2 separate regions of the Homo sapiens genome follow, and region 2 is linked to region 1. The links come from fine-mapping of genetic effects on gene expression. A gene starts in region 1. The other region holds a variant in brackets. All regions are shown on one strand. Distances are from middle to middle. Region 1 holds the start of HECA (hdc homolog, cell cycle regulator). Region 2 overlaps HECA (hdc homolog, cell cycle regulator).

What was found. PIP is the estimated chance that this variant, and not a neighbour inherited with it, causes the effect.
Region 2: its variant is the best candidate, but not a certain one, in a credible set for the expression of HECA in nasal epithelium (TOPMed, PIP 0.51).

The regions. Positions count from the first base shown.
Region 1 is chr6:139,125,456-139,140,878 of GRCh38, forward strand. HECA (hdc homolog, cell cycle regulator) reads left to right here and starts at 9,625. Exons shown (of 4, transcript NM_016217.3): 1 at 9,625-10,212. The coding sequence starts at 9,942. RefSeq lists enhancers at 1,177-1,678, 8,089-8,138, 9,417-9,711, 10,577-10,696 and silencers at 9,417-9,606, 9,717-9,796, 10,197-10,466.
Region 2 is chr6:139,175,978-139,191,400 of GRCh38, forward strand. HECA (hdc homolog, cell cycle regulator) reads left to right here. Exons shown (of 4, transcript NM_016217.3): 4 at 964-4,825. The coding sequence ends at 1,128. It also overlaps a transcript of TXLNB not described here. Among named protein-coding and RNA genes, the nearest start is that of HECA, 49 kb to the left of the region's middle. The variant G/T (reference allele first, on the strand shown) is at 9,491.

The DNA.
Region 1 (15,423 bases):
ATCACACAGCTAGCAAGCCAAAACTGCAACTCGGAAAGTCTGGCTCCGTACACACGCCCCTAACCACAAAACTATAATAACTCTTCATTGGATCTAAAGCTGGCATCTACCCTGAAACCTGAGAAGTGCCTGCTCTAGGAAATAACAAATGTTTTCTGCTTATATGCTAGAAGGAATTTCCTCTATCTTGAAGGGAAAGGTTTGTTTTTTTGTTTTGTTTTGTTTTGTTTTTTTAACAAATGCACACTGTAGTGTAGGTCCAAACAATACACAGTGGTACTCTTATCACCCTGGCTTCCACTTTTGAGCAGCTCCTTTAGGTATTGATCAGGTGTTTCCTCTTACAAAGAAACCCCACAGATTACCAAGGGCAATGTTTTAACCCAAACCAGACCATGGGCCACAATATTACAAATTGGAGAGTGTGGTAGGATTGGTTTGGAGTAGAGTCCATGCTGTGATCCTCTGTGGGAGACTGTTGGCTAAACCCAACTTGGCAACTTTAATGGTGCAAAAAAATGGCCCAAACCAGGAAGGCTGCAGAATCAGTATGTCAGCACTTAAAATAGAATTTTCTAGTAGAAATGTTAACACAATATAGAAGTAGAGAACTATGACTAGGTGATCAACAGCATATAGGAAGTGGCCATACCTAGAATTTCAGGCATAAGAAGATCTTGTACATGGGATGTTGCCTCCGTTGCCTACTATAATATAACAATTTAATCATTTCCCATTGGCTCATAAGAGCTGGTTGTGCACATCTCTTCCCAACCTTGAGTTCAGTGGCTTGTGCTGATAACCTAAAACTGGCCACAGTAGGAGTATTTATACCATGGGCAACTAGAAATGCTACAAATCAGAGTTCCCTCCCACATCCCTTCCCAGCCAGTTTAGCAACAGCACAGCACTAAAACTACCCCAAGAGTTGCTTAAAACAGCAACTATTTATTATTTCTCACAATTCTGTGGGTTGACTAGGCTCATCCGGGCAATCTGTTCCATGTGGTAAAGCTGTGGTGACTCATACAGCTATATTCAGCTAAGATAGGATTTCTCAAGCTTGGCACTAGATTCGGGGCTGGATAATTGTTTGTTGTTGCGTCCTGTGCATTGCAGGCTGTTGAGCAGCATCTCTGGCCTCAACCTACTAGATGCTAGAAGTGACAACCAAAAATATCCCTGGACATTGCTAAATGTCCCTGAAGGCAAAATTGCCAGGGGTTGAGAACCACGAAGCTAAGAGCTTGGCTGGGGCTGGAACACAAGTATCCTTTCTCATCTTCCACATGTCCATGATCTTTTATTAAAGAAAAATGTTATTCATGACATTTGTTACAGATGGTAATGCAAACTTTTCAGGGGAACTACTACCATGGAGTTTTGTATTAGGAGAGAGAGATTGGGCTCAACTCCAAATACAACAAGGAAAAGTGGGGATTTGTAGCCAAGGAGCAGGGGTGGGAGTCAGTGGATAGACAGTTACTAAGAGGAAACATCAAGGTTAGGGGGATTGTGGCCAAACTGACTTGAGAGGATTCTTGCTGAAGGCAGGCCAGGCTGATCTCATACGGAAAGTTGGGGATTTTTATGAAATTGACCCAGCAAGATTCTTGCTAAAACGGAACTAAGCAGGCCAAGGACGAGGCAAGGTTGGGGCCTAGTCAAAAAGAGGAATCAGAGGGGCCTGACTCAAGTTTGGTCAAGGACGGAGTCTTTGTCACCCTCTCCATGTGGCCTCTCATCATTCCATAGTCTGGCTCAAGTTTCTTTGCAGCATGGTGGCTGGCTTTTGGGAGAGCAAAAGCAAATTTAGGGTCCAGACTAGAGCAATTGCACTTTTGCTGCATTTCTAATTGGTCAAAGCAAGTCACAAGGCCAGGTTAGATTTAAGGGGAAGGCAAACAGACTCCACCTTTTGAAGAGAGGAGTAGCACATTTGTGTTCATCTTTAATCCATGCAGTGCTATGTTTGCATTTAAGGACTTAGAACAAATATTCTGCAGGAGGAAAGGAAATCTTAAGACAAAATTCTATTCGAGATTGATTGAAATGAACTCCAGAACCATACATAGCAGTACTTATTACTGGACTAAATGTGAAACTGATTGTTCATGTGATGGTAAATTTTTGTTACCTATAACAATTACAGCATATTTGAAGTTTCTTAAAATGGAAGCAATACCATGAATGTTCAACTGTTTACATCATTTAGAATTAGTACTTAATGTATTATATCTTCTGACAGTTTCCGTTTTATAGTTTTGAAGATATTTCCCAAGAAGTTTTCTAAAGAACTGGTTGTTTACAAGAGGGATCCAGTATCTGTCTTTTCACCATTGTATCAATACTCACCTGATTGCTAGTGCCAGAAGTAGATTGTTTTCTTTTCTTTTTCTTCTTCCTTATTTTTTTTGAGATGGAGTCTCACTCTGTCGCCCAGGCTGGAGTGCAGTGGCACCATCTGGGCTCACCACAACCTCCGCCTCTCAGGTTCAAGAGATTCTCCTGCCTCAGCCTCCCGAGTAGCTGGGATTATAGGAGTGCACCACCACACCCAGCTAATTGTTATATTTTTGGTAGAGATGGCGGGGGTGGTTCACCATGTTGGCCAGGCTGGTCTCAAACTCCTGACCTCAAGTGATCTGCCTGTCTCAGCCTCCCAAAGTGCTGGGATTACAGGTGTGAGCCACTGTGCCCAGCTAGAAGTAGATTTTTGTTGTTGTTGTTCCAAGGCATTATTTCCCCTAAAAATATTCAGCAGGACTCTACTTCCGTAGAATGTTAATAAGCATTACATGTAAAAGGATTTATAGGTTATATACATTTGGGAAATTCTAAGTTGAGAGTAAACAGGTTTCTTTACTGCTGGACTTTTAGGATCTTTACTATGCTAATATATATTGTGACTCATACAATATACAGTGTTTCCTAGACTTATTTTACCACAGAAATAGAGGCACGTCTTATATAACTAGTGTTCCTCAGGATATTCTTGGTAGAAATCATTCCAAGTAGAAATAAAGGAGGAAGCTGAATCTTGAGAGAAAATTCTAGCCAAGATCAATCAAAATTAACTCCAGAAACAAGCAGAGCAGTAGCCTTAGCACTTAGAAAAAAAATAGGTGTTCTTGAAATAGATCCTCAGATCCAACAATGAACTAACTACACTGATTGTGTTTGTTCTAAAAGTCAATAGTTCTTTAACTACAGAGGCCTGAAACACTTAAGCCAAAGATCTTTTGCAAAAGTTATTGTAAATTCATGAAATTTTATCATCCAAGATCATCAAAGATTCATTAGTTGAAACAGCAGTGTGGAAAGGAAGAACTGGAATAAGGTCTTAATTTTTCCATGCTTTTTATCTTATAAACTAAACTCGAAGCCCTTGAAAATGAGAACTTAGAGTGCAAGCAGTATATGAAGATATTTGTGGTAGGTAGTTTCTAAGATGGTTTGTTGTTGTTGTTGTTGAAACAGAGTCTCACTCTGTCGCCCAGACTGGAGCGCAGTGGCATGATCTCGGCTCACTGCAACCTCCACCTCCCGGGTTCAAGTGATTCTCCTGCCTCAGCCTCCCAATTAGCTGGGATTACAGGTGCGTGCCACCACGCCCAGCTAATTTCGGTATTTTTAGTAGAGACAGGATTTCACCATCTTGGCCAGGCTCGTCTCAAACTCCTGAACTCGTGATCCACCCGCCTTGGCTTCCCAAAGTGCTGGGATTACAGGCGTGAGCCACTGTGCCCGGCCCTAAGATGGGTTTTAATGATCCCCATCCCTTGGTGTTCATGCCCTTGTGTAATTTCCTCCACCCAAGCTTTGGCTAAATCTGATGACTTGCTTCCAAGAAACAGAGTACAGCAAAATGATGGATGTTACTTCTGAGATTAGATTACAAAAAAGATTGGCATCTGTCTTGTTTACTCTCTCATGCTCCCTGTCTTTCTCCCTTGGATGAAACCAGCTGCCCTGTTGTGAGCTGCCCCAGGCTGAGGTTTCTGTGGTAAAGAACTGAGGGGAGGTCTGGGGCCAGCAGCCCACAAGGAATGTTGAATCCTTCTCGCAACCCTAGGACTGAGTTTGGAAATGGATCCTCCCCCAGTTGGCTGACTATAGCCTTCTGAGGACTCAGCTAAGCCATCCCAAGATTACTGATTCACAGAAACTGTGAGATAATAAATGTTTGTTGTTTTAAGCTGTTAAATTGTGGGGTCATTTGTTAGGCAGCAATAGATAATTAGCACCATATTAAAAGAGGCATTTAGAGAGGGCCAATGTTGTATTATCTAAGTCAAATCTTGCAGACAGCCTTCAGAAGCACTGTGGTTAAGTCAAGCTTTAGAATGGCAGAATAGAAAAGTGCTGATTTTAATTGGGCATAAACATAGGGGATATTGATAAAAACTAGATGACAAAAATCTTTGAGATTTCAGTGACACTCCAGAGGAGATATCAGAAATACAAGGTGTAGAAATGGATAATTCCATGGCCACTGCAATTGCTGATGAAGGTATTGCTATTATAGGGGTTCTTGTTATACAAATCTAGACCAAACTGAGCCATCCCTTTTTGGTTTAAATATTATGCTAGCTGAACATAAAAATGTGGTTTTAGAAGAATTCTTTTTTTCTTCATGAGATCTGGCTCAAATTATTCTTTTAGGTGCTCCTCTCCATTCTCTTTTATTGAATGAATATGTATTAAACACTTAACTATATGCCAGGCCCTGTTTTAGGTACAGAAGATTAACAGAGAAATCCTCACCCTCTTGAAACTTGCATTCTAGTGTGGAAGGACAGACAGTAAACAAAGTTAATAAACATAAAAATAAATCTCTTAGGCCGGGCGCGGCCTCTTAGGTGGCTCACACCTGTAATCTCAGCACTTTGGAAGGCCAAGGCGGGTGGATCTTAAGGTCAGGAGTTCGAGACCAGCCTGGCCAATATGGTGAAACCCCGTCTCTACTAAAAATACAAAAATTAGCTGGGCATGGTGTCGCAAACCTGTAATCCCAGCTATTCAGGAGGCTGCGGCAGGAGAATCACTTGAACCCGGGAGGTGGAGGTTGCAGTGAGCCGAGATTGTGCTACTGCGCTCCAGCCTTGGCGACAGAGCGAGACTCCGTCCCAAAAAAAAAAAAAAAAAAAAAAAGTAAATAAATCTCATGAAGGAAACGTTCTTTCGGGTTTACTGGGGCCTAAGATAGTATTGATGCTGAACTGGGACAATAGTATGAGCAAGGAAGGCACAGAGGTTCGAGTAAGCAGCAAGTTCAGGGATCACTGAAAAAAATTCTGACCCTTTTTTATGACTGCTTTTATAGATTATGAAAATAATGTAAAAGTCACAACTAAAGGATGGAAAAGAGATTTTAAGGGCAAATATTTGAGAAAAATATTAATATTGGTAATCGGGAACAGCCTAAAGGGAGAGTAGATCTATGGAATTTATTAATCAATATTATTATTTGCTTTAATATTCCATTTTTTCAAAGTTTTTATAATCACAATTGTCATTATTCCTCAAAGAAAACCTGTGGCCATAGGAAAGGCTATTTGCAGAAGAAAAAACTGATGCATGAAGACAATGCATTGCTCCAGGTGTATTTATTTGAAGTGACTTTTTAGCAGATCAGGCTTTAGTACCTTTTAGCTTATGTTTCAATTGTGGACATATTCTTGTGTGCATTACTGTGTTATCTGCAGAATTCCTTCTGAGTTCCAATATGATTTTTTCGATCAAGGTGTATTTGGATATTTGGCTTCTTACCTATGTTCTAAGTTTTCAATTATCCTTAACACATATATTTTGTACTTTAAACCTAACCAAACTTAGCTGACCCCAAGAGCTCAGAAGACAGCCACAAAATGTCAAATGAACAAAATTAGGGCACTGAAACAATGACTGCTTATTCCAGTTCAGCCTGAAGATTAGCCCACCCCTTTCTTAAGGGTGTAAATTGTTTGCTTTTGATGCCCTTGATTTGTTGCTGTGCTTTATTTTGTTTTCGCAGAGAAGTGAGCAATAGGGTGGGTGAGGTTTGGGGGAAGGAAACCTAGGATAGAGGTATAATTTTTTTGAAGTTTATATCAGAGCATGAGTTGATCAGGGAAATTGAAGAATGAGAAGGCAAGTGTAGATGTACAGAACAGAGTGGCTTCCTCAGTTCCTTGGAGTTCTTTATACTTCTGGAAGTTTCTAAGGGGAATGTTCCATTGTACCATCTGCCACCTTTTGTCTTTTGGTATGCTGTCTCTCTCTCTCACCTTCAGAAATGGTGGGAAAACGGCTAGGACAGCAGGATAGAACATAGGAAATGGAGTCCTTTAACTTCACCTACATTTTGTTCCTAACATCTTGATTTTAGTATATTGTCTTTGTAGCAATAAAATCGGAACTATTGCCTCTGCACCAAATTTGACTAAGGCTAAAAATAGATTAGCGAGGTTGAGCATGGAAGAAGTGGCAAGCTTCTCCTTCCTCCTTTTCATTTTGTTTCAGTTTGAATAGAAGGAGGTAGCTCACACAATTAACCAGAACAGCAACTGGCTGGATGTCTGGGTGCTTTGAGCCAATTAGGATATTTTTGTGGAAAGTTTCCAATTCTTAATTCTCAGTTATGTAGAGGTGGGAGGCAGCTGGTGTGAATGTCTGTCTGCAGGGTACATGCATACTAACTCTGATCCAATATGGCATGACAGCAATGTGCTTATTCAAGAAAATAATTATCTCAATTTTCTTGTACTCTAACCTAAAATGTCTTCGCCTTCACGACTTAAAAAAACAAAACAAAAAACCAGAAAAAAAAAAAGAAACGCCAAAGCTAACATCACCCACATATTTTGAGACCTCTAGTGGTATCAATAATGAAATTAAGCTAAGTCTGAATGGGCAACAGTAATTCATTATCTTCCTCCACGGACCCACTGCCCTCCCCGGGAAGTCTCCCTTTAATTAACTACCTTCATCATTTCTTCTGATTTTCAGAATTTCTTGACTTCACTCTCTCTTTCACCCCTCATTTTTGGTGTCCAAGTGGCCACCAAAGCAATATCCCAGTGTGTAAGCTGCTATGGTGAGGAAGGTGCAGGGAGTATCTGGGGACAAGTCTAGTTTTGGGTTGTCACAGATTTCCTAGAGAATTGATGATTTAGCTGAGACTTTAAGGTTCAGAATAATGTAGCCAGAAGAAGAGTGCTTTAGGTATCTTCCATGCAACAAATTTTTATTGAATACTTACTGTGGGTCAAGGTTTATGCCAGACTCTGTAGCGTTAGAAAGCTAGGCACAATCCCTGCTCTCTTAGCACCTAGGGGATTTCAAGGTTGGGGAGAAATAGACATGAAAATATAAGCACAAAATATCTATCTATCAATAGGGCCTTCTAAAGGGTCACTATCCTCTAATACATATTAGGGAATTTAAAATTTCAACTTTTTTTTTCTACTAAAGAGTCCAACCAGCAATTTCCCCTGAGTATCCAGTGCTTGCTCCTTCTTGCCGTTCCAGGCTCTGTTATGCATTCTGCTATGGTTGCCCAGAGCTCGCAATCAGAATCTCCTCTCCATTACCTGAATGTGGGGGAGAGTATTGTTTCTTGTACTTTCCTGTCTATCTGTATAGTTCACAATGAGGCAGAGAACAGAGTCTGGAGGCAGGGAACCTAAGGGCGTTTCACCCCACTTCCTAAACTAAATTGAAAGGAAAACCCTAACTTTCCACACCTGAGTAACAAAAGGACCAGAAGCTGCTCCCTTTGCAAACCCTCACCTTTTCTGCGTGGCAGATGGGAAACTGGCTGTCAGCAACCAATGAGACTGATTGCGGGTGGAGTCTTTGCATAGAAGTGCAACTTTGTAACTTCACCTTAGCCTCTGATTGGTTGCTTTTTAAACAGAAGTGTGCAAAAAGTGTGATTGCACAGAAGTGTGACCTTTGTTAACTCCACTTCAGCCTCTGATTGGTTGACGAAAGCAACCAATCAGACTAATTGTGCGTCACCACTTCATTTACATGAGAAACCTCCAGGGGGTATTTGGACCTCAGAAGATTCTGCATCCGGAACCTTGAGCCACCGCTGGGGCCGCTTCCATACTGTGGAGTGTACTTTCATTCTCAATAAATCCCTGCTTTCTTCTTTCCTTGCTTTGCTGGGCGTTTGGTCCAATTGTTTGTTCAAAATGCCAAGAACTTGGACGACTTGCAGTCAAGACCCTCTAATGGTAACAACAACACCGTGACAGAGCTTTTACTAAAGGGCTGAATTAAAGATTACACTATAAAAGGGGAACACTGTAAAGCTGTCAGCTAAACTAGTCTTTCCTCCACAGTTCGTGAGGAAGGAACCTAATTTATACATTCAACAAATTTATGCCAGCTGTTCTCTGATGTGCCCAAGGCAGATAAAATCTATCCATGGAGGTTTCATTTCAGTGAGAGGGAGATATACAAGAAATAAGTAAACACCTACATTGCCAACATAATTAGAGATGGAGGAGGAAAATAACAGGGTGGAACTTCTGACAGCTCTCCTGGGAAGGTCTCTGTGGAAGTGATGTATTTGAGCTGAGACCTGAAGGAAGGGAAGGAGTTGGCCGAAAAGGTAGAATAGAATTGCAGAAAGAGATCAAGGGGAGCTCTTCCCAGGGGTCCCCTGCCCTCATATTGCCTGTCTTCACTGGTGTCACCTAATCTCCTACTGCTCATAACCTGGCTACCTATCTTTCACTATCTTTCAGGACAACTCAGCCCTATGCATAGGGATGGGTTCCCCCCAAGCAGGGACTGCTTCAGAGTCCAGGCAACATCTAGTTACATCCCTGGATGATGGGTCTTGTTTGAGTGAATTGTTTTCACCACCAGACTGTGAAGGCTTCCCATTCAGGACCCTGGTGTTCATCCCCATTGTCTGGGAACTCTACCCTGTTTCTTTCTTTCTTTTCTTTTTTTTTTTTTTTTTTTGAGACAGAGTCTCGCTCTGTTGCTCAAGCTGGAGTGCAGTGGCGCGATCTCGGATCCCAGGTTCAAGTGATTCTCCTGCCTCAGCTTCCCGAGTTTCTGGGACTACAGGCGCACGCCACCACGCCCAGCTAATTTTTTTTTGTATTTTTAGTAGAGACAGGGTTTCACCACGTTGGCCAGGATGGTCTCGATCTCTTGACCTCGTGATACACCCGCCTCGGCCTCCCAAAGTGCTGGGATTACAGGCATAAGCCACCGCGCCCGGTCCCCTGTTTCTTTAATTACTGTTACTGAAAGGCATAGCCTTTGAATGAGTTATTAATCCAAAATCTTTTGTTTTCCATTCTTGCTCTAGTCACAGCTTATTTTTCCAGACCATACTGTTCTAAGCCTCAATTACATTAAGGCCAGGAGGCCACCGAAGAACTCCACATGCCACTGCACTGGCGGGTGGAGCAAGTCAAGCAGGGCAGCTCATGAACGCCCGGGAGTCCAGGAGGCCCGGGTGGGGACGCCTGGATGACGTCACTCGAGGTGGGCAGGCCCCGCGCGGGGCGTGACGTCACGCGGGCGGTCCCGTCAGCCGTGAGGTCACCTGGTGGGCGCGGCCAGGCCGAATCCCCAGTGTCGTCACGGGAGGGGGCGGGCCCAGAGCGTGTCAGTGCAGCCGAATCAAAACAAGCCGGAGACCCGCCTTTTCCCTCCGGCTCGGGAGCGTCTCGCTTGCGCCCCGGGCCCGCGGCGCCCGCGCGGCTGCGAGCCTCGGGTGGCCGCGTGCCGGCTCCAGGAAGCCGGAGAGGGCGCGGCGGCCAGGATGGCGCGGCACGGGCCGTGCGGCTAGACGGGAGCCGAGGGAACCGCCGGCTCGCGCCCTCCGTTCTTTCCCGGAGCCGGCTTCACGCAGGGCCGGGAACGGCCGTGCCTCTGGGATCCGCCTTCGCTGACGCCGGGCACCTACCTGGACGCGAGCGAGCGAGATGCCCAACCCCAAAAACAGCAAAGGCGGCCGCAAAAACAAGCGCGCCAACAGCAGCGGCGACGAGCAGGAAAATGGAGCCGGGGCCCTGGCAGCGGCGGGCGCGGCGGGAGCGGCGGCCGGGGGGGCCCTGGCGGCGGCGGCCGGTTGCGGGGCGGCGGCGGCGGGCGCGCCGGGCGCCGGAGGCGCGGCGGGCGCCGGAGGCGCGGGGACTGGCGCCGCGAACGCTGCGGCCGCCGCGGGGGCTGCGGCCGCGGGCGATGCCAAAAACGGTAAGACGGGGCTGGCGGGGCGAGCGCCAACTTCCTCCCCGACGGGGACGGCGCGGTGGCGGGGCCCTGGGTGGCGCGGGCGGTGCGTGGACAATGCGAGAGTCAGGAAGTGCTCACCCCGCCCCTCCGCCCCGCCGCGGCTGCCCCTTCGCGGTCCCCACGCCTGGCGGCGGGGACAGATCTGCGGCCCCTGCCCGGTGTCCGCGCGGGGGGCAGCCCGCGCCCCACACTCTGAGGGGCTCCCGGCTGCGGCAGCGCTGCCCTCGGGCCCAGCCTGCTGCCCGCGCTGGCACTGCCCCGCCGTGTGTGCCGGGCCGAAGGGAGGAAGGAAGGGAGGAAAGAGCCGCCCAAGTTGAGAAGAATGATCCGATTGAAAACTTAGGCACCGGTTAATTCTTCCCGGTGCTCCAAGGCCACCCGTAACCCCCGGAATGAAGGAGAGAGAGCCTCAATTCTTAGCACACCCAGGCTTGCTGCGTCGATCGCCACAGGTGAAGAGGCCTCGAGACATTTAGGGCCTCTGTGTTTGCTCTTTAATTTTTTGGCTTGCTTGAGGAAGGAAGAGAATCTGAACTTGACTTCCGTTCTCAGCCCGGAGTTAAAAAAAAAAAAAAAAAAAGAAAAGAAAGAAAAGAAAAATCATTCTCTATGTCATTGTGCTTAACATTTTCAGAAGGAAGCCTCATAATCTTAGGTAGTGCCTGAATGTTCCTTTTGAGGGGACACTTAGGAACTGGCCCAGATGTGACAGGATTTCTGTTCTCATTACAGAGCCATGGTTTTCGTTATAAGGTGCTGGGCAAACACTTACTTATTTGGACAGTTCTTTGAATTCCTCTAGTCAGGCACTTTTTCCAGGAAGACAACGTAGGTATTTTAATGAAGGGAGATTTGAATTGTTATATCTGGCTTTTAATTTATAGCGTCAGCTTTTGAAGCCATTCTTTATGTAGATCAGGCACTTTTTTGTTTTGTTTTTTTTTTTTTAGACGGAGTTTGCAATTTCGCCCAGGCTGGAGCGTAGTGGCGCAATCTCGGCTCACTGCAACCACCGTCTTCCGGTCTGAAGCGATTCTCCTGCCTCAGCCTCCCGAGTAGCTGGGATTACAGGCGCCCGCCACCACGCCCGGCTAATTTTTGTTATTTTTAGTAGAGACAGGGTTTCACCATATTGGTCAGGCTGGTCTCGAACTCCTGACCTCGTGATCCGCCCGTCTCGGCCTCCCAAAGTGCTGAGATTACAGGCGTGAGTCACCACGCCCAGCCAGATCAGGCACTTTTTAAACAGGGCACCTGCTCTTACAAGCAGCGTACAGTGCTCTGAACATAGGCGGCTGAATGTCGCCTGTTAGAACTGTAGGCCCCGTTGGCTGTGTCTCTGCAATATTGAAATAGGAAGATTTATTTATTTATTTTCAGAAACAAACTTACCCCGTTTGTGAATGTTTCAGAATACTAGTTTTGGGTAGCCTGTGTTCTTCATGTTCTTTTGTTTTTCTCCTGGCTTTAACCTTCATTTTGGTATTGATGTGGCAGAGAGAAAGGTGCTCAGACTCTGGGTAGGACAGACTCCTAGCTCAGCCATTTAGAGCTTCATCATCTTGGAAAGGTCAGTCTTCCAGAGCCTCAATTTCCTCATGTGTAAACTTGAAAAAAAATTACCCTGGCTCCCTCCTAGTGTTATTGAGAGGCTCAGAGTGCCCCTTCCCTATTATGCTCCCAGTTCTTGTTATTTTAAAGGTTACATATATAATGAGCTTAAAGTTTCTCACAAAGAGTGCATGAACAATGATGACAGCTTTCGTTTATTCATTTAAAAAAGATTACCTGCAGTGTTGCAAGTACCGTGTTCAATACTAAGGGATCCAGCGGTAATCAAGACGAGACATCCCGGTCCTCAGGGAGCTTGCATTCCTGTTCTGGTGGTGGTTTTGGTTTGCTCTGCCCACCCCCCTACCAGCTCCTTTTTTTTTTTTTTTTTGGCCTATGTGGAAGCTTCAAGTTCACAGTTTCCTTTTTTTTCTTGCTCCAAAAGATTAGTCCAATTTAAGGTGGCATGAGGAAATTTTTTTCTTAGGCTACTTGTACCTCCTAGTTTGTACATAACAAACTGGTTAAGGGGCCCCTATTATTATTCTCTGAAGTGGCAGACTCAAGTATATTTAGCAGCACAGTGTATGTGAAGAGCTGTTTCTGATTAGGAGCTTATTTTATTAAGTGAAAGGCGGGGAGAAAAAGGAATGGGCCAACATTCCCATAGTCAGGGTCAGAGGATGTAACTTATATTAGAGGAGTGAGCCAAATTTTATGATGCCTGATTCTTGTTTCTGAAGTGATGTGAAGTCTTCGTGAATGATTCACCTTAATGTGAGGAACCCCCCCTCAGTTCTGCAGTTGATGATAACTGAACTTGGATGCTGAGGACTCCTGGGTGCAAAATCAAATGCTTTTTTCTTTTCTTTTCTTTCTTTCTTTGTTTTTTTCTTTGTTATTTAAAGCTATAGTTTATAAGGTAGGGGTTTGGGAGAGGCGTTACTGGTGAATTTTTAAAGAGGAAGGGGCAAGAGATGCGTAAATTCTCAAAATCAACTAAGGACCAATATTTGGATTTTTAATGTTAAAGTTATTATCGGTAGTAGTTTTAAGTGTATTTCAATTTTTTACTTAACTGTGACATTAGATTTTGTAATTACAGAAATTACAAATCAAGTAATTATTACAAGAAAGGAGGTACTTGATATTCTTTGAAACTTGTAAATAGTTTTTCACTGTTCAAGTCAGCTATCTACATCTGCAAACATGCAAACTTAATGACTTCGCTTAAAATTAATAGTGTTTATTTGTAGTTGTTTGGAGTTTATAGAATGGTTTTGTGTCTTGTAGCTCTTGGGCAGTGCGGCCACCAGAGCAGGGCAATATTAGCTTTTAGTTGTTCAGTTTGTCAAGTGGGCATAAATAAATACTTATTCTGTAAAGGAAGATTACTAGTTACGGAGAGCTTGGGGAAGCCGCGGTATAGTTGTGGTTGGAGAAGATGAACTGGCTGCAGTTGTGCATCTTGAGTAAGTTTAATATTAATTCTTAGGATATCATACCGCTAATAAGACATTTATTAGATACTAATTTTAAGATACTAGTTTATGAGGCTTATTTTTCAGGGATTGGTGTAAAAGACCACCCCATCTTTTTCCTACATAGTAATCTGTCTGCACATACCATTTGCATTTTCATTGCAGGTATACAAGATTACCAATGGTTATATTTAGAATCTAGTTATCAAAAGGTAGATACGTAGTTTCATTCTGGTTCCATTAGGCCTCTACATTTTTATATCAGGCCTAAAAATATTTGAAACCTTGATCATAGTATATCTAGTTTTCATTGGGCCTGGATCTTAAGTACTTTTATAAATTCCTGTTATTGGATGACCATGGTTCATCACTCCACTCATTCCTTACTGCCTCTAGAACCCGTGGGCAGCAGAGTCTGCCTTAATTCATGGAACTGTTTCTAGCAGATGGAGTTCGTTTGCATAGAGATTGGCTTTCCATTTGGTGGACCTAGATTCAAATCCTGGCTTCTCAAATTACTTGTCAAATGACCTTGGGCAAGTCATTTAACTTCTCTGAGCCTTGGTTTCTGCTTTGTAAAATGGATTGTAGTACCTACCCATACAGATGTAGTAAAATATCTGTATCTATCTATTAAATATATTTAAAATAAATAGATTACATACATTAGATAGATTAGAACAGTGTCTGACTTACAGTACCAGCTTACGAAGTATTAGCTGTTTGTCTTAGATCCTGGAAATAGCCTGAGCAGAGATACACGTGCTGGAGGTTACTGGAGAGTGCTCTTGGCATCATTCCTAGTGGAGGAGGGAAGGAAGCAGGATTGGGCAGAAGCAGGAGTTGAACTGTGATGCATCTGTAACAGAGACCCCAGTTGATCCTCTCTTGGGGGAGCTCTGGAGGTGGGATGGCCTTTCTGAGTTATCTCACCTTAAATAATAGGGGCAGGGCCTTCTACACACTCCCCCAACTCCCAGTTGACTGGTCATTTGGACTTGGGCTCCCCCCAGGAAGAGAGCATGACCTTGAGGGTGGCATCTCTTTACCTGGAAACCCTTTATGGAGAGGGACTCTGCTGAGAAGCTTCAGCTCTGAGTGAAAGGAGAGCCATTCTTATTCCCCTAGCATTATGGATGTCTTCATTTAGACCACCAGTACCATTCACATAAAACACAGGTGTGGGATAAATATTTCTCACTAACAACTAAATAGGCTTTGTGGAGGAGACTGGGAATTAACCACCATTATAACAGTGTTTCCATGGGAAAACGCATTCTGAATTCCATATATCTGTTGACAAGTAGATTTTTTTTGGAGTACCACCTGTTCCCTATGCACAGGATTTGTATTTTGCTGCATATTTAGGCCACTAAAGACACTTTTTATAACCGAGGTTTGTAGTATATTTTAAATAGTTTCTTTTTAGATGTTTACTTTAATTCCTACTACATTTAAATTACCTATATCCATCAGTAGGAAAATGAAAAATGTTTGCTTGCTGTTTATTTTCAAATCAAGGAATATCTGTTGAGGATCTAAGGTATATAGGTTACCATTATAATCTTAGAAAACATTTTCTTGCCTTATCTAGAAGTCAGTTTTTTGGGTCTCAAGAACTATTTGCCTTTGGATGTTGTCTTTTGAAATCCACCTTTTTAGTGGAGATTGGCAGAAAATATTGCCTCATGCATCAAAGATTCTTCCTGTACACTTCGTGTATTAAAGTGAAGAGCTCTTCTGTGCGCCGTTCATGGTGCTCTATGCGCAGTCTCGTCTTTCTCTCATTCTTTACTTGTTAGAGGATCTGTGATCTGTCCTTAAGTTCTAGAAACTAAACCTTCAATGTCAATTTTCCTGTAAGTCCAAGAATATATTTCATTCCATGGAGAATTGAAAACGGGAGATAAAACGGGAAAATCTCTTGCAGCTTAATCCTCCTATGAGTTTACTTCAGGCTTTTAGCTATGAATAATTTAAAGAACTTGAAGGTACCAGAAGAGATTCTTTACAGAAAAAAATCTGTCCTAACTGATTTTGATCAGCAACTCTTTGGCATTTTTGTTTTTTGAGATGGAGTCTCGCTCTGTCACCCAGGCTGGAGTGCAGTGGCACTATCTCGGCTCACTGCAAGCTCCAC
Region 2 (15,423 bases), 51 kb after region 1:
AATGAATCAAGGGAAGTCTTCAATAAGATGTAGCCAAAAATAAGCAATAATTGATTCTTAGAAAGGTATAACAGTGTGAAGACGGGTTTGCTCAGAATCACACTTTTAATGTTGTTCAGAGAGATTACGTAGTTAAAAGAGTGTTTATCTCAGGTTACAGAAAAGTAGTTCCTGCAGTGGCTGAGGATCAGCAGGCTGCTTTGGTTCACTCCAGCCTTGCTGCTTTCTAACCATGGTCTTTGGCATGGTGCTTTATCACATGTGCCTCAGTTGCATTATCTAAAAGTCAGCTAATACTACCTACCTCCCAGGAGTATTTTGAGAACAAGTTGAGATTATACTTTTTAAGTACATTTTTAAAATGAGTCTAAATTGAGTCTGTTTTATTTATAATTTGTGGTTATTCACTTAAGTCCTGGACCCATTGCTGAAAGGTTCCAGGACTGTGCTGTTACGGAGAGGCTAGGCATGAGTGAAGATGCAGGGTGCTGGGAACTCCAGAAGCCTCAGACCAGCACCGCACTTCCTGGATTGCTAATTTTACTTGAGTATCTTGGGAAATTTTATTTTTACATCAAAGAAAACGCAACTTTTCTATAGAGTAGAATGAAAAATGAAATTTCAAAGAAGTTTCGTGGAGGTTTGGGTGAGGGAAGTCAGCTTCAGCCGCTGTCTTAAAATCCAGGGGGAGGGGTTTCTTATTGTTAGGGAACTTCAGTGGAGAGCATTTAGGCAGTAGTAGTTTAGAATTTTCTTCTCATAAGTAGGTGAAACAGCTAGCAGTGCTGCATATCAGGAGAGAAGTTGGGAGTCTTTCAGGTATACCCCGTTTCCATGTTTTTGGTAGTAAAAGGGATGCTTTGCAAAGCCCTTGATCAGTTTCCCAGCATTTTGGTTTGGATGACTTTGACAAGTGTTGGGAAGTGGAGGGGTGTTGTGGCTGATGGTGTCTGTTTCCCCCAGGCCCGCCTGAACTGTAAGCACTGTGGGAAGCCGGTGATCGACGTGAGGATCGGGATGCAGTACTTCTCCGAATATAGCAACGTCCAGCAGTGTCCACACTGTGGGAACCTGGACTACCACTTCGTGAAGCCATTTTCCTCCTTCAAAGTTCTCGAAGCTTATTGATGAAAGCTTTGCTTTAGTAATAGCTATTTTATTGATATTATTACTTTATTACATATCTTTTATAGGGAAACATTCTGTGACATTAATTTCCTTTCTAATTTAAAGGAGAGTTACTTTGTTGTATGTGTGCCACTAAAATAGGGGCTGCCCTTGCCCTGTCTTGATTCCCGAGTGTTAATCTGTGGTTTTGACCAGAGCCCAGATGGGTAATCCTGTGCATTTGGGTTGGGGTTCACTCTTACCAAGAATCTTTGATGCAGCTTTAAGATGGTGGGGAGGATGGGGTGAATTTAGGAAAGGAATTTGTGGTTATAAACTAAGAGCTTGATAGGAGTTGGAAGGAAACTCTTACTAAAATGTTAACTTTCTAAAAACCTTCTTTTAGATCTTCCTTGGGCCTTTGGAAAAATATGTGACAAGTGAATGTAAGTCTGTGCCTGGAGAGCTAATAGTGCATTAGTCTATCTCAGCCTAGTGTTCTGCAGCACACATGGGCAGGCAGTTTACTCACACTGACAGGTGACCTGAAAGTGGCACAAGTGCTGTTTCTATCACTATTGTAATTTGCCAGTTCATTTTTCATGCTGAAAGTAATATCCAAATTGTAAGACATATGAAAGATATTAGTGTTGCAAATATGTTTAGGTAAACTGACCTATAACAGAATATGTGAAATGAATTTGGAAATAATGCAAGAAGGCAGAACTCAATCATTTAAATTGTGTCTTTGAAGTTGGTAATATAGCTTTTAAGGAGAACCCATGAATAACCTGATTTGGGCAGTGATGATTTATTACAGGTTGCACTGTTGAAGTGTCATTTGGTGTCAGGTTCTTCTCACAGGTAAATCTTTCAGCCACAGAATCTAACTGGTGAGCTTCAGAACCAATAATTGCCACATTTATTGTCCTCAAAATTGCTTATGGCCATGTATAACCAATTAATTCTGAGTTTCCAAAATCAAAGATTTGACCTTAAGAGGGAAGGGAAAAAAGTGTGAAAGGATGATGAAGAAAATAATTTTACTATTTCTTTTAAAAGTATGTTTTGGAAAATCAATGATTTTAATGCATAGCAGTATGTTTGAAAAATAGACCATTCTAAAAAGCCCATGATACCTTACTGTTGATGAAAAAGGATGATCATATATATAGAACTTGATTAGTCAGAGCATTGGGCATTCCAAAATACAGCCTTTGGTTCAGTAGATTTTAATGCTTTAAATAGACTGACGTCGCATACCCTTATAGAATTGGAATATGATTTCTCAAAAATTAATTTGATAATTTCATGTATGATGTGCATATATGCTAAAAGAATGCAGAAAATCATTTTATGAATAGCCAAATTTGGGGTTGATGTGAACATTTTATGTTACTCATTTGGTTTATACTTTTTTTTTTTTTTTTTTAACTGTGTGGTTTTTCTTTTCAGAAGTATTTAGGCAATATTGCACGTGAGTTTCAGTTCTTTTTTTCTTTTTTTTGAGATGGAGTCTCACTCTTGTCACCCAGGCTGGAGTGCAGTAGTGCGATCTCAGCTCACTGCAACCTCTGCCTCCTGGATTCAAGCGATTCTCCTGTCCCAGCCTCCCAGGTAGCTGGGACTATAGGCACGTGCCACCACACCCGGCTAATTTTTTGTATTTTTAGTAGAGACAGCGTTTCACCATGTTAGCTAGGATGGTCTAGATCTCCTGACCTTGTGATCTGCCTGCCTCGGCCTCCCAAAGTGCTGGGATTACAGGCGTGAGTCACTGTGCCTGGCCAAGTTTCAGTTCTATATGAAGTATTTGATGTTTTGTTTGAAACAATACAGCATTAAAGAACCAATGTTATTCACTAATATCATTCATCTTTCAGTTTGGATGATTTGGTTTGCTGCATCTAGGTTGGTGTTTGATCATCTGAAAAAACATTTCAGTGGGAAGAAATGCATAAAATGCCTATAAGAAGTAGAAAGTCATTGAACTGACAGTGTTTGATGCAACTAAAAGAGGATTGTAAGACATAGCTTTCTGCAAACTTGTCTTTAATGCACAAAGCTGTAGTGGTGAATTAACTATCTCCTTATTGATTCTCTCCTGTACCCAGATGCAAAAAGTGCTAAGTTTCTCTTGTCCTCGTAATACCATTTGGATTTTATTTCTGAATTTAAATAGTAAAATATTTATGATGCTGATCTTTAACCCACCTAAAATTTTATAGTGAAACCTGCTTTATATTGTTGTTCTGAAGCTTACAATTGACCTATACATTGCATTCAGCAAGCTCCTGAATTTAGAACTGCCGTCAGTGTAGTGTATGCTGTGTTCCATGTTGCCTTTTTAGATGGCTTTCTACCCCCTGAACAATAAATAGGATGAGGTTTTACTGTAATTGGGTAAAGTTTACTCTTGGACATTATTTCGATGCTAAAGTAAGGATTCTGTGGATGTTACTTAAAGAGAAAAGCATAAGAGCATGAAGCATATCTGGGAATATCTTTTGCCTTTAAGACGATTCATTCTTGTCTAGAGGGAAAATCTGGCTGATTTGGGAATAAAATATAATCGAATATTCAACACCATGAAGATAAATCTTATTTTGGAAATCTACTGACCTTAATACCCCAAGCTTGCCCTGAATACTTTGATTGGAATTGGAATATATCAAAAAAGGTTAGTATTTTTGTTGTAGTTAGGATACTAAAAGGATATTAGTTACCCAAGAGATCCAATTTGTTTTTCTGATGAATAGTGTTCAGTAAAATGAAGCAGTCTTAAGAGTGACTAATAATTTCAAAGTGATTTTTCGTCTATTCTTAATATTTTTTAATTATTTATTTTTAAGAGTTTTATACCTTGAGCAGATACAATGATCTGCTTTAGTGAGAGGACAATTTCTGATTGATTGTTTTCTCTTCAGGCCATCTCACCTCTTCATTCTCTTGTTACATTTGAAGCAGTTGATATAATGGGTTTATACTTTAAAAGATAGACATGGTGCCATGAAGTTGGGGAGTTGGGTGAATTATCCCATTCTAGTTACAGAGGAGCTTTCCTTAAATGCCCTTTAACTTCTAGGTTTTGTTCAAGAAGTTCATTTTCTGAGTAAAAGGTATTTTCATATATGTTGGGGGAAAATTAACTCATCTAAAAAGAATCTTATTAGGTATTTGAACTCTAAAACTAACAGATAAGACAGATATGTACCTTATTAGAGCACCAGAACTAATTTGCTAAGTCTTTTGTTTAGTCCTGCAAGACTGATGCTTAATACACAGTCTGTTCTCCTGTGTCTAGGTCAGGAACTCCAGTTTGCTTTTCTGTTTTGTGTCCTGGTAGCAGCTGTTGAGTAACTTTCATTGGAGGTTGGGAAGGAAGTGAGGAGAAAGTGTTCTTGTTTAGTGTTTTATTTCCTATAATAGGATGCTGCCTAACCCAGTTCATCTCTATGTCCTGTTCACTGAATATTCCGGGTAATTGAAAGAAAATATAATGGATGGGCTCCATTAAAACCAGCTCAAAAATAAATTCTTGTCAGTAAAGATTTCTTGTCAAGATGTCTTGGATTGCACTTTTGTTGAGGAAAGACAGTGTAAATAGTTAAAGAATGTTGATAAAATTGAAACATTTGGTTGTGGAATTGTGTGTGGTTTTAGAGGGTTTCTGTTTGTGAAATGTATGTATTAAAAATAATAAAATTCCAGAAACTAACATTGTACTCTGTCTTTAGTTTGTCACTTTATTTTTCATTGAGATTTTTGAGCAGTGGGATTGTCTGGTCAGAAAAGATGAAGAGAAAGCTTTCTGAGGTTTTGATCACTATTCAGGTAACCATTTCAAAGTCACTCCTGCAGCTAATAAAAAAAACTGCCAACTTTTTTGCTGCTTGCGTCATGTATCACATGTAAACTCACTTTGCAATAAAAGCTTTCAGTATGACAAAGTTGATTCTATACGAATAGTCCAAAATTATCGTTCCGGTTTTAGGGAATTCTATTATTTGATAGATAGTATAGTGTTAAAGATTAGATAGACCCCCAAGGTCAACCACCCATAGCCACATAGCCAAAACTTAAGTCGTCCTGATTTCCCTGAAATGCTAGTTCTAATCAAAACAAAATGCAAGGCCTTGTCGGCATGATTTGGTGAAATCAAACTTACTAGCCATACAGTAATCCCCCCTTATCTGCTGTTTTGCGTTCTGCAGTTGTTTCAGTAACCCATGGTCACCCTAAATGGAAAATTCCAGAAACAATTCACATAGTTTAAATTGTGCACCATTCTGAGTAGCATCATGAAATCTCAAGTCCTGTGCCATCCTGTTGAGCAGGCGAATCATCCCTTTGTCCAGTGGATCCATGCTGTAGACGTCCCACGCCTATTAGTCACTTAGGAGGCTGCTAGATGAGTCCCGGTATTGCGGTGCTTGTATTCAGGTCACCTTTATTTTACCCAAAAGTGACCCCAAAGTGCAAGAGTAATGCTAGTGTACTCATACACTTGTTCTATATTATTACTAGTCATTGTTAATCTCTTACTGTGCTTAATTTATAAACTTTATCATAGGTATGAATGTATAGGAAAGGTCTTGGAAAGGATCCCCTAAGGATAAGGGAGTGCCTACTGTGTAGACAAATCAACAACTGGTCTGCTTTCCTTATAAAGAATGTTAACATGTAATAGCCAGTTATAAAAGAGGGTGAAAATACTTTCTCCCTTATGCTTTATAAATGGTACTATAACTGCTGTGTGCAGACTTCTAACCATTTTGGTTTGAGGTCTCCAGGTTTGCCAGCTGTTCTTTTATGTGCACAATAAACATACAATTTTAAAATTTGATCTGATTTTATTTTTGACAATAGATTATTCCACAGATGCTTTTGTTTCCTAGGCCTGTAACAATTTTCATCATGAAAAGACTTGATCGTATGCTTCTTCATTATAAGCAAAGAAGTCTAATTGAACGTCTTGCTGACTTCATATACTGTGATCAAGAATAGTTTATCCTTAAATCTCCTTGTCCTCTTCAATTCAAATATCATTCTTGGCCAATAGATTGAAATCCACAAACATTAGAACACAAGATAAGTTGGGGAAACCTGGGTAAAGAAAGTCTTGAGTCTGCCAGTGGATTCAAAGCCTGTGTTGCTACTTACTAATGCAGATGTCTGAGGCATAAATTTGACTTTATTTAAAGCCTTATAAAGGACTTGGGATATGATTTCTACCAATGTAATTTATGGTCAGCAAAATTCCTTTGAAATTTTAAGGAAGGTACAGTTCATACTGTAGAAGGAAAAAAGTTGCAGAAAAAAGAAGTTAAATGGTGATTGGTAAGCAATTAGTTTAATGGAAGAAAATTGTTACTTCTTATTGGTGGTTTCCATTACTTTAGATCTTGCTTGTATTGTTTTGACTTAAATTTGGCAAATTCAGCAGCAATTAGATTGCTAATTATCTAGGCTGTTTAGTAAAGGGTTAAATTTTCAAAGGGGGAAGAAATTCTTGTCTTGAGCTTTTCTTCTTTTTCTGTTCTCTCAACTCTGCAGTGAGGTAAACCTTACCTGCTGAATGTGAACTACCTTTGAGGACAATAAAGTGCTGTACAGATGTAATATTTGAAATAGTAATGTATTTTTAAGGCATATTTTTTCTTTAGTAGAAACTTTTAGCATTGTGGTAATTATATTAGCTCTACCTGGCATTGCTAAGCCTCAGAAACAGCAAAAGTAAAAATAAAGCAGTTTGTCTCATGAAGTTCAGTAAAACAACACTGGTTACATTCATCAGTGTTCAAATGGAATTGGCTACCGTAGCACCATTTCTTGGTGATGAACACCATCTCAGGCGGTTCTGTTACACTTGATTAAAAATTTAGATATCTAAATCAAGCATAGAACTAATTGTAATTCCTAATAAACCCAGTTATTCTAAGAGTGAGAAAGTCATAGCCAAAACAGTCATAGAATTTAGACGTGTCAGAATTTGGAGCAAGGGCTATGCTTTTTGTTTTACCCACATGGTAAATGTTTGTGAATTTCATTGACAATTGTACTCATTTTAGAGGTAAACTGAGGCCCAAAGAAGTTAAATCTAAGTAAGTTCATATAGTTAATGACTAACTAGGAATTAAATCTGGATTCCCACTCCTAGTCCTCAAAGTGAGATTCGGTAACATACTCAGCTAGCTAACTCTTGCTCAGAGGTAGAGAATTCATGAACTTTCTTCGGTTTTCCCTTCTGTTTTCTGTTACCACTTGCATACTGGCCACCTTTAGCATATTAATTGTCAGATCTGGACATTAGTAGTCTGAAGAGATCGTTGCCAGTTGTGCATGTTACTTTTGAAGCTGTTTTAAATGTGAACTTTAGATCCTGAAGTTAATTTTTTTGTTGTTGCTTTCATTTGGTGTTTACTGATTTCATTTTCTGATGCTAAGGGTAACAAATTGGGGGGCCTATATGAATGGCACTTAGACTCTCTGTAAAGGAAAGAAAATGTCAATTACAGCCATGTACACTTTTACCAGATATGTTAATAAGATATCTAACTTGATGTTGACTAAAGAAAAAAATAGCAACCTTTTAAATAATTAAAGGTTGTTTTATTCAGAAGTCTTACTGAAGACTGTAGGCTGAGGCCTGTAGCCCAGGAGCAGCCTTTGAGAGAGGTTCTGCCAGGCTGCTCCAGCACAGATACTTCAACCCACTGCTTATATACAGATGCTGGAGGTTCGGTACGTGCAAAATCACATCAGAGTTTGGGTTTAAGAGTACATCTAGTTGTAGATTACAGAAGCATAATCACTAAGCCTGTCAGACATTATATGTTAGAAAACACAAGGACTAGGGTCATTTATCTTTTAAAGAATATAGTGACCAGGCAAGAGACTTGGAGGACCGTCTGCTAATACTGCACTGTCCTCAAAGCATGCTTTCAGAGAGCTGCACATTGTTGTGGAGTCAGCGCTTCGTGAAATTATGTTAGCAAGCAGAAATGAGCAGACATGGCTGCTTATGTTTGCTACTTTGTCTCCTACGAGGTTGGGTGTAATACACAAACATGGAAGGAGAAGTGTCTGGACATTGTACAGAGCAGGGAGTCCCCAGAAGTAAGTGAGAGGAGCCTTGTGGGTGTGGAAATTACAGATTTGCTCAATATATGTATCAGTGGATGGGCACCTTGTTTTCAGTTGAGAAATAATTTGGGCTTGTGACAAGGGAGTAGATTTAAAAGCTATAGTAGCCCTTGCTTCAGCAACACAGGCGCCAACATAGAAGTAATTCTGTGAGGCCTAGCTGGGCCCTCTGCATAGGAGTGATGAGCACATTGGAAGCATCCCCTATTTTAGAAAAAGAACACTTTCTCAAAGGGAAAAAATTTGAAATCAATAGTTGTGTCTTCACCTCATCTTTTAATGCATTAATTTGTTGACATCTGTTCTCTTTTGTTAAGATAGATGATTGCTTAAGGAGAACTCTGGGTATAAGGTGACGTTTTCACAGTCTACACCACGAATTCATCATTTTACTCACTTGGGGATCTAGCTTTGAGTTATTTTTGGATTCAAACATGTCAAGCTGTCGGATTTGATAGCATTGATCTATCCAGTTTGGGCAGGGTTTTCCTTTTTGACTAACTTTTCTAACAGTTCCTCTAGGTGTGTTTAATTTTCAATTTCTCACAATCTTGTTAGAAGCTCTGGTATCCCAGACTGTTGAGGGTTGCTTGACTTGATCAGGGTTTATTGGAGTTCCATATAGTCTTGGAAAAAGTGCTGGTTACATGTTTCTCTTAAGGAATGACAATTTTTTTATGGTTTAGGGGCTGTCCCTTGCTAATTAGCAGTATTCTAAGTTACTGCCAAACCATTGGTTGAATAAGCGCTTTATGCCTTTTTGTTATTTTCATCACATTAACAAATTGCATATTTTTCTGAAGCTCTGATGACACTGCAGGTGATTGATGAGGGAAGTAAAGCCGGGTGAAGCCTATAGGCTTGCGTTCCTCTGAGGCTCCAGAACCCCATGGTTCTGAAAAGAGAATGATTTGGGCAGGGAGTGGGATAGTGGGAGTCCTGGGGGCTACTGTGCATATTTCAGAAAACTTAATGGAGATCACAAAGTTACCCACCACAAGGCTGCACAGGATACCTAAAAGGTCAGTTTACTTTTGGCAGGAGTTACTGCAATCTTGGTTATCAAGCTGCTCAGAAACACTGGCAGTAGCATATGCCTTTGATGAATAATATATGAAAACAAATGAATTACCTAATAAATGCAGTTCACTTTAAAGACATAAGTTTTCAAAACACAGGATAGAGTTGTGGCCGGGTGCAGTGACTCAGGCCTGTAATCCCAGCGCTTTGGGAGGCC[G/T]AGGTGGGCGGATCATGAGGTCATGAGATCGAGACCATCCTGGCTAACACGGTGAAACCCCGTCTCTACTAAAAATGTGAAAAATTAGCCGGACGTGGTGGTGGGCACCTGTAGTCCCAGCTGCTCGGGAGGCTGAGGCAGGAGAATGGCGTGAACCCGGGAGGCGGAGCTTGCAGTGAGCCGAGATCGCACCACTGCACTCCAGCCTGGGCGACAGAGCGAGACTCTGTCTCAAACAAAACACACAAAAACATAGGATAGAGTCATACTGGGTTAAGGGTGGTCTTTGGTGATGGGAAAATGCCATTTAAAAAAATGTCCTTCACTTTTTTTCTAGTCCTTTTTCTTCTACCTGTTGTGATAGTTTTGCCTATCTTACTTATCCTTACCTGCCTATCTCTCTCTTTCCTACTTTGTCCTTTCTGTTGCCCTTCCTGTTGCAACAAGTTTCTTAACCATCAGGATATAGTAGAAGCTCCTTGACAAACCCAGACATTAGTTAGTCAGCAAATCAAAAAAGAAGTTAGTTGAGAAAATAATTACCTACAATCAGCAAGAAGATCAACAAGTTGACCCTATAATCAGTTGATTTTCGGCAAAGGTACAAAGAGAATTCATTGAATAAAGGATAATGTAACAAATGGAGTTGGAACAATTTGATATCCATATGCAAAAATATATAAATAACCCAATCTGGATCCATATTTACACCATATTTTTAAAACTAACTCAAAATGGATCAGATGTAAAATCCAAAAATGGATAGATTAGATGTTATTAAAATTAAGAATTTCTCAAAAGATACTGTTAGGAGAATAAAAAGACAAGCGCCACAGACTGGAAGAAAAGGATTTGTATCCAGAATACATAAAAAGTTCCCCCAAAAAACATTTGAACAAACACGTTAACAGAAAAAGGAATGATGACACATAAGGTACTCAATATTGTTAGTCATTACGGAAATGCAAATTAAAACCACAATGAGGTACCACTTCACACCCATTTTAATGGCTGAAATTAAAAAGAATATCAAGTGCTGGCAAAGATATGAAGTAATTGGGACTCTATTACACTGCTGGTGGGACAGTTTCACAGTTTTCTTAAAAAGTTAAACATGTGCCTAACCTATGTCCCATCCATTCCACTCCTGTGCATTTATTCAAGAAATGAAAGTATATGTCTACCCAAGGACTCATTCATGAATGTTTGTAGCAGCTTTGTTTGTAATAGCCCCAAAAAGAAACAATCCAAATACCCATCAACAGAAGAATGAACAAAATTGCAATATGCAATTGCAGAGTACTACCCAGCAATAAAAAGGAACAGATTCTTCATACATGCAACACCATGGACGGACCTCAAAATAATTAAAGTGAAAGAAGCCAGAGAAAAAGACTACACCCTGTATGATTCCATTTATGTAAAGCTCTAGAAGATGCAAATGAATCTGGTGACAGATTGGTGGTTGCCTGGAGATGGGTGGAGGAATATTAATGAGAAGAGAAAGAAAATGATTGCAAAGGGCATGAGAGAATTTGGGGGTGACTGATGTGTTCACTGTCTTGATTGTAGTGATGGTTTCCCAGATGTAGACATCTGTCAAACTTATTAAATTGTATACTTTAAATATGTTTAGTTTATTCTGTGTCAATTATACCTCCATCAGCCAGAAAAAAATACCCTCTTCTCCCCCCTGCACCTCCCTACCCAGGATAACTTGTATATCATAAACATTTTATTTATATTTAAATCAGTAATACACTTTCATTTGACAGATTTGGTTCTTTAGACCCTCTAGTTGTAGGACTACACTTTCTTGCAAACCTTCATTTATGATGCACTGTAAGAATGCTTCCTATTTGGTTCTCTTTAAAGTGGAATTGGAACTTAATGACACATGAGAAATACTATAAATATAGAACCTCTCTAGACTTGTAGGATTTCCATTTTTTAAAATCTTTTGCTTTTTTTTCCCCATGTTTAATTCAGTATTTTGTGTATATGATTTGCCTCATCTGCTCAAAGCATCCTACTGAGTTATCAAAACAGTATTTTTTTTTTATAATTATATTTCATTGGTTTGTGCACTTTTTTATTAAATTACATCATTGCAATGGCAAACGTAACTGTGGCATAAGCAAGTCTGGGAATAAACCTGAGTAACTTTTGGTAAGTACAGAACTCTGCTGGGGGAAACCATATGCAGATGGTGCCTGATAGCGAGGAGGCTCCCAGCTGCCAGCATTCATCTGGCCGAGGTCATTCATCATAGTGTGGCTTTACAAAGCAATTTAGAGGCAGTTAATTGCTGGATTGGTTAAGGAAAGGTTGATTGAGAGAAGATTCTACTGCTCAAGCTCGTTTAAATCCTTACTTCCCTCACCTGTAAATATTGAGTCCCTACCTGGGGGTGTTAAATGAAATCATTAAATTAAGTGTTTATTGCAGTCACTGGCATGGAGTAAGTGCCAAAGATGTTCCGTATTAGGATCATTTATGTTATTTCTGGAAGCATTCTTATGTTAGGGCAAGATTGTCTGACTCAACACTTATTTTACCGATGAGGAAAATGGCTCAATGTTTGATGGCCTTTTCCATCACCAACCAGTTAGGTGGTAACCCCTAAGAAAGCTTCCCAGGGGCCTTCTTACTAAGAGGCTCCTGAAGAGTTCTCTAATAGCAGTGGAGGAATTGCAGATCCTGTGTCATGGATACAGGAGCTTCTGAGAGTGGCTTTACTTTATGTCTCTCAAATCGATGGGTGCGTTGATGGAAAGGGAGATAAAACCAGGCCTCAGTGAGGCAGTGAGATGAGAAGAGGGTTGAGAAAGTTGTGCAACTGGCAGGCAGATAAAATCTGTCTTAATAAGGATGGATAGAAATTTTGTGACAGCCGTATTTGTTTTTTCCCTAGTTGGGTCAGCTTCAAACTGAGACCTGTGCTCAAAAACCTATTTCTTCTTTGGATGGAAAAATGATCCATTTGTTTCTCTTATCTAAAACAGGATCTGTGATCTACCCTAACATGAAATTTTAAGTGTAGATTATTTTTAAAAAATCTAATCGAAATTCTGACAAAGCATTTGACTTATAAGGTTTGCATTTTTGTATTAAGAATTTTATTGAACTGAAAAATTTCTGAAAGAGAAATTTCACTCCCAACGTCTCTCATTTACATTTTTGTTAGATTTATTAATGCATATGTAGCACTTTGTATGTATGCCGGGAAGCAAGAGCTTTTTGAAAAATTGTGTTGGAATCTCAATTGTTTTCCAGATTTCTTTTTCTTTCTTTCTTTCTTTTTTGAGACGAAGTCTTGCTCTGTCGCCCAGGCTGGAATACAATGGCATGATCTCGGCTCACTGCAACCTCCACCTCCAGGGTTCAAGCAATTCTCCTGTCTCAGCCTCCTGAGTAGCTGGGATTACAGGCATGTGCCACCATGCCTGGCTATCTTTTTGTATTTTTAGTAGAGACGGGGTTTCACAACATTGGCCAGGCTGGCCTCAAACTCGTGACCCTCAGGTGATCCACCCACCTCAGCCTCTCAAAGTGCTGGGATTACAGGCGTGAGCCACCATGCCCGGCCCAGATTTCTTTAACCTCGTATTCTATGTAGGTGGGATATAACCTGTGGTTCTTTGGAATTGGGGTTTTAACAGTAAGCAATCATATGATGTGTAGTGTAAGAAGCACTAATGTTTTATTACAGCTTTCGGGGTAAAAGCATTGCAAAGGAGGTGACAGGCGTATTCTGTTGCCCAAAAGTTTATGATTTCTCTTTTGATGTTTTTCATGTTGCATGTTTGGATTTGCATTAGTTGAAAGTTCTAAGAAAATATCTAGCAAATTAAGCTACATGTGAAAGCTTTATTCAAAACTGCTAAGCATTAAAATTCAAAAGGATGATTTTATCTAAGAAGAATATTTAAAATAGTCAAATTAGTGTTTTTTATTATTAGAACTGCCTCTATATTGAGGTTAGAGCAAGTACTTTGGCATTTAGTTTTCTTGGTTTATGTGTAATTTTAATTAACAAGATATTAATTATGAGTCTGAGGATTTCAGAATTTATTATTAAACCCAAAAGAAAGGAAATAAGAAAGGTCTGAAATAAATGGAGTTCTCAACTTGTAGAGATGTGCTCTTTTTGAAAATACAAACTTCCAGGTCAGATTTCCAGTTTGGGCCAAGGAAGTAAGCTTTCACCTCTTCAAAGACAATATTGTCTTTGCAGCTGTGGAGGTTTGCGGGGAGAGAGGTCAGAGCCAGATGAAAACAGTTTTATAGGATCTATGTCAGCATTTAGCAAGGTTGATCTTGTCGGGTATGAAGTCACTCAGATGGGGGATACAGAGATATTGCTAGCTGTTGTACTATGGAAGTCACGTGATGGGATTCCATGTAAATGTCACTCCAAGTAGGCTCTCCTCTAGGGCAGGGACTGTCTTTGACAACTTCTATCCATAATGCCTACTATAGGGCTGTGCCCATTAGCTGTCTGTCAAACAAATGTGCTGGCAGCTGTGGGGAATTCAGACAATTTTCTTTCCTAGTTTTGTGTTTTGGGTGCCTACTTCCTTGGGGATTCCTTTCAGAAAACCAAATGTCAAAATATTAACAGTAAAGAAAATACCTGGATCATAAGAACTGCCTTCATATCTTACACATTTAGAATAAAAGTGATTCTTAGTCTGTTCAGGCTGCTATAACAATACCTTAGACTGCGTAACTTATAAACAACAGAAATGTATTATTTACAGTTGTAGAGGTTGGGGAGTCTAAGATCAAGGTGCCAACAGATTTGGTGTCTGGTTGAGGGCCTGTTTCTTTCTTTCTTTCTTTTTTTTTTTTTTTTTTGAGACAGAGTCTCGCTTTATTGCCCAGGCTGGAGTGCAGTGGCACGATCTCAGCTCACTGTAACCTCCACCTTCTAGGTTCAAGCGATTCTCCTGCCTCAGCCTCCCAAGTAGCTGGGACTACAGGTGCCCACCGCCATGCCCAGCTAATTTTTGGTATTTTTAGTAGAGACGGGGTTTCACCACATTGGCTAGGCTGGTCTGGAACTCCTGACCTTGTGATCTGCTCACCTCGGCCTCCCAAAGTGCTGGGATTACAGGAGTGAGCCACCACGCCTGGCCAAGGGCCTGTTTCTTATAGATGATGTCTTCTAGCTGTGTCCTCACATGGCAAAGGTGTGAACAAAGCATACTTGGACTTCTAAGGGCACCAAACTCATTCTGATTAGATCAGAATCCTGATAATCTAATGACCTCCCAAAAGGCCCCACCCCTTCTGTTGTTTTTTGCTTTTGTTTTTCTCTTCTTTTCACAGGTGTTGAAGGTCCCACCTCTAAAAGCCATCACCTTGGGGCTTAGAGTTTCAACATATGAATTTGCAGGAGGAGGCACAAGCGTTCAGACCATAGCAGTGCTCCTGTGTGGGATTATTTAAGTAGTTAAGATTAAAAAGTTAGAAAACGTCAGAAAAAGAAGACACCTTAAAAATCCTGTTTCCCAATCCCTGTACTGTATAGAAAGGGGGACAGATACAAGAATTGCTTAGAATCAAGACCTCTAGAGCTGTGCCATTCAGTACAGCAGCCTAGCCACATACTGCTGTTCAAATGAAGTTTAATTTTTTTTTTTTAATTAAAAATCCAGTTTATCTGGCCAGGCGCGGTGGCTTACGTCTGTAATCCCAGCACTTTGGGAGGCCGAGATGGGCGGATCACCGAGGTCAGGAGTTCAAGACCAGCCTGACCCACATGGAGAAACCCCATCTCTACTGAAAATACAAACTTAGCCGGGCTTGGTGGCACATGCCTGTAATCCCGGCTATTTGGGAAGGCTGAGGCAGAAGAATCGCTTGAACCTGGGAGGTGGAGGTTGCGGTGAGCCGAGATTGCACCATTGCACTCCAGCCTGGGCAAC